Linked DNA regions of Homo sapiens: region 2 is linked to region 1. A link means that fine-mapping ties the variant in region 1 to the expression of a gene that starts in the linked region. Tissue or cell type: sun-exposed skin. Region 1 holds a variant in brackets; the other region holds the start of a gene. All regions are shown on one strand. Distances are from middle to middle.

The links.
Region 2: it holds the start of LINC01948, and the variant in region 1 is fine-mapped to the expression of LINC01948 in sun-exposed skin (GTEx, PIP above 0.99).

Annotation. Positions count from the first base shown.
Region 1 is chr5:56,452,967-56,455,875 of GRCh38, forward strand. No RefSeq gene overlaps it. Among named protein-coding and RNA genes, the nearest start is that of LINC01948, 27 kb to the right of the region's middle. The variant A/G (reference allele first, on the strand shown) is at 1,438.
Region 2 is chr5:56,480,371-56,483,279 of GRCh38, forward strand. LINC01948 (long intergenic non-protein coding RNA 1948) reads right to left here and starts at 1,399. Exons shown (of 5, transcript NR_104664.1): 1 at 1,183-1,399. RefSeq lists an enhancer at 1,168-1,327.

The sequences.
Region 1 (2,909 bases):
CAAAACCTTCACAAAATACATCTGATATGAGATTACTTCTATGGTTAGAGAACAAGTTTGTCAAACCTTTTCTCTCAAAGACTCAGTAATAAATATTTTAGGCTCATGGGCCATAAGGTCTCCACTGCAACGACCCAACTCTCTGGTGTAGCGTGAAAGCAGCCACAGATCATGTGCACATGCATGTGCATTTGTGCTGTATTGTCAGTACACTGCTGCAGAACAGATTACCCCACACTCAGTCAATTAAAACAACACCCACTTATTATTTCTAGTTCTGTAGGTCAGAAGTCTGGGTGGACTTAGCTGAGCTGTTCACTTAGGTTTTACGCTGCTGACATGAAAGTATTGGCTGGCTGGGCTCTTATCTGGGGGCTTCCAAGCTCATTCAGGTTGTTGGAAGAATCCATCTCCTTGGGGTTGTAGGACTGAAGTCCTGGTTTCCCTGCTGCTTGTCATCAGGGCCACACTCAGGGCTCCTCTGGGCAGTTCATAGTACAGATGTTTGCTCTCTTCCTGGTCAGCTGTAGCATGTTTCTTTAACTTCTATTCTGCTACCAGCAAGAGAGAACCCTGTTGTAAATGGCTAGTATGATTAGGTTAGGCGCGCCTGGGTAATTTCCCTTTTGAAGAGCCCCCAAGTCAACTGATTAGTAATCTTAATGACATCTGCAAGAATTCCCTTTGCAATAAAATGTAACATAAATCACAGGAGTGATACTTCAGTACATTCAGAGGTTTCACTCACACTCAAAGGGAGGCGATTAAACAAGGATGAGCATCCCTGGGGGACATTTTAGAATTCTGCCCACCACAGCTGGGTTCTAATAGAGCTTTATTTATTGACACCAAAATTCAAATTGAATACAATGTTCTTGTGTAACAGAATAGTGTTCTTCTTTTGATTTCCTTCTTAATCATTTAAAAATGTAAAAATTCTTAACTATTGAGGCTGCACAGAAACAGGCAAAGGCCTGGATCTAGCCCATGGCCTGTGGTTTGCTGACCCCTGGGCTAGAAGATCAAGTAAACAAATCTTGAAAAAATACCAAAAGAGAAATTGTCATAGTGCCCCATCCAGTGCCTTGATCACAGTAGGTACTCAATGAATGAATGAACAGATACTGAGTTCCAGGAGAGACAGAAGACACATGCACCCCACATATCCTAGAGCTGAGTCTGCTGCTGTGGGTAAAATACAAACACTCCCATCTCTCCTTTTGAATGTGAGACCGGGCATAATCACAGGACGTTCAGGTGACCCAGAGCTCAGACTCCAGCGCCTTCCACATTTCCCTCAGGCTCCAAAGCAAAAGCACGGTATAATTACAAGGGCCATGTTGCAGTTTAGGTCAATCCAGCGCATGTTATCTGATAAATGAATTCCAAAGCCAAGCGAAACTCTCAGCAGTCTTTCCCCAAGATGCTGGGCTCAGC[A/G]TCAGCGTTCAGTTCTCCTTAATTACAGGTTGGCTTGTTTTGTTGCGCAATAGTGCCCCAGCCCGGATGAATGTCATTTCCTTTCTTGGTAGGTGAAATGGATGAGGTGAGAAAGGCCCGGACCACACCGAGAATCGAATGCATGGTAAACATAGGGCCACGGGGAAGTCTTGACACCGCTCGGCAAGATCTCTCACCGATGGATCCACCCTCTATGTTTTCTGATTGGACACATTTCCTGAGATGGGAAGGATCATGCTATTGGCTGAGGCTGCATCAGGGGAGTAATATTTACTCTGGAAAATCTGGGAGAGGGTGTCCCAGTCTGTGAACTACCCAGACCCCCACGTTCACAGAATACTAGGATGAGGAGGATCCCAAGGAACACCTGCATCAACTCTCATGTTCTACAAGGGAAGAAGCCAGGTCTCAGGGACATTAAATCACTTTCCCAAATGTACCAAGCTAGTTAGAGTGAAGAAAGATCCTATTTATCCCAGTTCCCAGTGAAATGCCATTTCTGCTCCATACCTTCTCTTCTCCATGTGTCCTATGCTCTCGCACTTTTTGTGCTGCTTAGCGTTTTGCCCAGAGGTGTGCCAGAGATTATTGCTCATTCTTTCTCCTTCCACGGTCACAACACCTCCCTGGGCTGGTGTCACCTCTTACTTTGCAATTCAAAACGTTGAAGAAGGTGCGACCTGTCTAGATTTTCGTGTAGCCTTCTCTCCTGATTGCTGTTTCAGATAACACATTCAGGGTGTTGGTAAATAGCTGTGAATCAGAGCCTCGGGGACAGCCTGGTTTGGTGTGTGGATAGTCTGGCTAATGTCATAGCAGTCCCTGCCTTAAATATCAATGTCCGAGGAAGGTGGGATGCTGTTTCCAAAAGATTGATTTGCACTTCTGCTAATATATGGCTGAGTGTTCTTTAAAATGGAGTATTCTGCTTGCCCTCTGCCACCTTCACAACACCCTAAATCTTTGGAAGAACGTGCTTCTTGTTGGACCTACAAGTGGGGAGCATCTTGCCTTGTCCGGCCTGTCCCAGTTTCTCGGGAACCCTTGAGGTTTCTGTCCCTGTTCCACATACTTAGCCCCATCTCCAGGCTTCCTGTCCATCAGCCTGAGAGACCATACTCTAGGAGTCTTAAGTGCTGAGTTCCCTAGTGGGAACTCACTGGACTGCAACGCCCCAAGTCCCTCCTTCTCTCTCTGTGCCTTGGGATGGGCTTTGTGCCAGCTGTGCCCATCCTGCTGTTCTGCAGCTTGGTGCCCCTTCCTAACGTGATGGGCCTCTGCTAAGGTCATGTTCTTTCACCAACCCAGGGTCCTTCCAGCTCCTCCACCAAAACAGTGCCCTGGTTGTCCTCACTTGTCCCATCTTCAGCAGGGAGGCACTTGATTCTGTGGCATTTGGCACTGCTCACTGGGCTTTCTTTTCTTTTCACTGTAAGACTCATGCATTAGAT
Region 2 (2,909 bases), 27 kb after region 1:
CTATCACAAAACAAAACAAACACCAAAAAGCCAACCCACTGGATCTAGAGACCTACGGACTTGCCCTCCTGATACTTGCAGCTGGTGTTTAAGGACGTGCCTGCCTTGGGCGATGGGCGGGTAGAAACCTCACACACCAAAGCCCATCGAGCTAAACTCAAGGTTGCGAACCCCAACCCCGGTGGGAACACGGTCTGCAGACACGCTCCCTTAAGTCCCTGTCGCACACAATAAATTGCTTTCTGAATATTCCCTTTACAACTGCAAAAAATAGAAATGGCTGTAACTGTGCAGAGAAAGAAAAGAGAAGCTGGGATGAGCTCCATCAGGGGCCGAATCTGCTTCTCGCTGGTGGATACTGTGATAAGAAACCTAGATCTGAACGGCCTCACAATGGCCTATTTATCCGGCTCTTACGCACGGCCGGCAGCCCCGGCTGGGAATCACGGGGGTGGCAGCCGTCCCCGGAAAACGGCGGCATTCCGACACAGGAAAGCCCGCGGATCAACTGATCTGCAGACAACGCTTCTTCCTTCCTGGGAAGCGGCCACAAAGGCAGCCAGCTGACCCCGGCCCAGCGCGGCTCCCGGCCGAGGAGGACAGGGGCGGGGTGGGGAGGGGGGGAATCGTCGCCCGCCCCGCCCCCACCCCCCAAGTTTCCTTTGGCAAAAGCATCCCAGGCGTGGTTCAGGCAGAGTCCACGCCAGCGAGGCTGGGGCCGAAACTCTCCACGCCAGGAAGGCGGGGTAGGCGGACCCGCCGCCCCCAGCCCCGCGCGCCCGCCGCGCCCCCCACGGCCCCCACCAGCTGGCTCTTCCGGCCGGGGCGGCCTTGGCCTGGGGCTGGGGTTGACTTTGGTGGGGGGACAGGAAGGACTGGCACAGCGCCCGCGACTGTCCCCTGAGGAGGACCCTCCCTACGACTTTTGGTCAAAAGCAAAAAGAAACACAGACATGTGCGTCACCCCGGGAAGCGCGCGGGGGTTTCGCTCGCGTTTCAGGAGCCGACTTCGCATCCTCCCTCGGTAGGGGGGTCGGGGGTTCCTAAAATTTACCCCCCAACTTCACTTCTCTGGCGACAGAGCACCTTAACAGTTCATTTCCCTCTCGCTCTCAAGTGAAAACATCTTATTTTTGTGTTAAAATGTATAAAGACACCATGAGAATTGGCAGGAGGTCAAACCGTAGATTCTGAGATGCTCCGGTCGCTCCCCAGGAAGCGCTGTTTTCGGAAGTGTTGACCCAGCAGCTGGTCCCTGCTGCTCTAATGACACGATGTGTGCTTTCACTTTTTCACTCCCAAAACGACGTGGTTTGGAGTCTTGAGAGCCTTGGAAATCGCTGCCCGTGGAGGGAAAGGTCTGGAGAGGCCAGGCCAGGAGAGCAGACATGCTGCAAGAAGCGGAGGCAGCCCTGTGAACTCGCCTGGCTCCGCAGGGAGGGGCGAGGCTGTCCAGGTCGCAGGTGGAGCTGGCCAGCTGCGAGCCAGGATGTCCTTGCTCTTTCCAAATTATACACAGTTTCCACAAGGAAAAAAGAGAGGGGTAGGGGGTCCAGGCAGATCTTCAGCTGTTTGTATACTCTGCACCAGGAGGCGCTATCATCAGCCCGGACCCCTACTCCACAGGACTGAGGAGACCACAATTCTTCCCTCCAGGCAGAATCGTGGACCCAATATTCCCGTCTCCCCGAATTCTCTTAACTCAGTATACTGCCATTAACAGCATAGTCAGCCTTCTGGACTTGAACTCCAGAAGGAATTTTGTCTCATTTAGTGCCTGCAGGGGAGCAGGATGAGATAGTACCTCTTGTACCGGCACAAGGTCTCTGAGTTGACTCTTACATAAACATTGCGCTGTTTCTAGGGACGGCATCATTTCTTGACCTAGAGAAACAAAGATATTGTGGGAAGGACCCCTGATGCTCAGTGGCAGTTTGGAGACCTGGCATTAGCCTTACTCAGTAAGGCTTCCTGATCTAGCAGGACTGATCCAGTCAGCTTTGATGATCCCCTAGCCTGGTACTGGGATTCTTCCAAACACCCATGAGATCACCCACATCTCACAGGGGCTGGTAGTGTTCCAGCAGAGAAAGGTGAGGGTAGCAAGCAGTAGTCACTTTGGGCCTGAAATGAACATCTTGGGGTTTTTATATCTGCCCACCCACTATGGGACATTATTGTCCCTTCCTCTTTGCTACAGTGTTTCCAGAAAATGAGAAGTAGCATCTTCTTAGAAATAGATTGGGTACCCTGTCTTAGACCTAGTTCCTTTTTTTTTGTTTTTTTGAGACGCTGTCTCACTCTGTCTCCCAGGCTGGAGTACAGTGGTGCGATCTGGGCTCACTGCAACCTCCGCCTTGGGGGTTCAAGTAATTCTCCTGCCTCAGCCTCCTGAGTAGCTGGGAATCCAGGTGTGTGCCACCACACTCGGCTAATTTTTGTATTTTTAATAGAGACAGGGTTTCACCATATTGGCCAGGCTACCCTTGAACTCCTGACCTCAAGTGATTCGCCTGCCCCAGCCTCCCAAAGAGCTGGGCAGTTACTTTTATTATAGTTCTAGATAACATAGAAAAGAACATGGAAAGCAGCTATGCAAGCAAAACACAAACACAAACAACCCTGTTAAAAAGTGGGCAAAAGACATGAACAGACACTTCTCAAAAGAAGACATGCAAGCAGCCAACAAATGTGAAAAGATGCTCAGCATTGCTGATTATCAGAGAAATGCAAATCAAAACCACGATGAGATCTCACACCACTCAGAATGACTATTATTAAAAAGTCAAAAAAACAACAGATGCTGGCAAGGCTGTGGAGAAAAGGGAACACATATACATTGCTGGCATTGCTGGTGGGAATGTAAATTAATTCAGCCACTGGGGAAAGTAGTTTGGAGATTTCTCAAA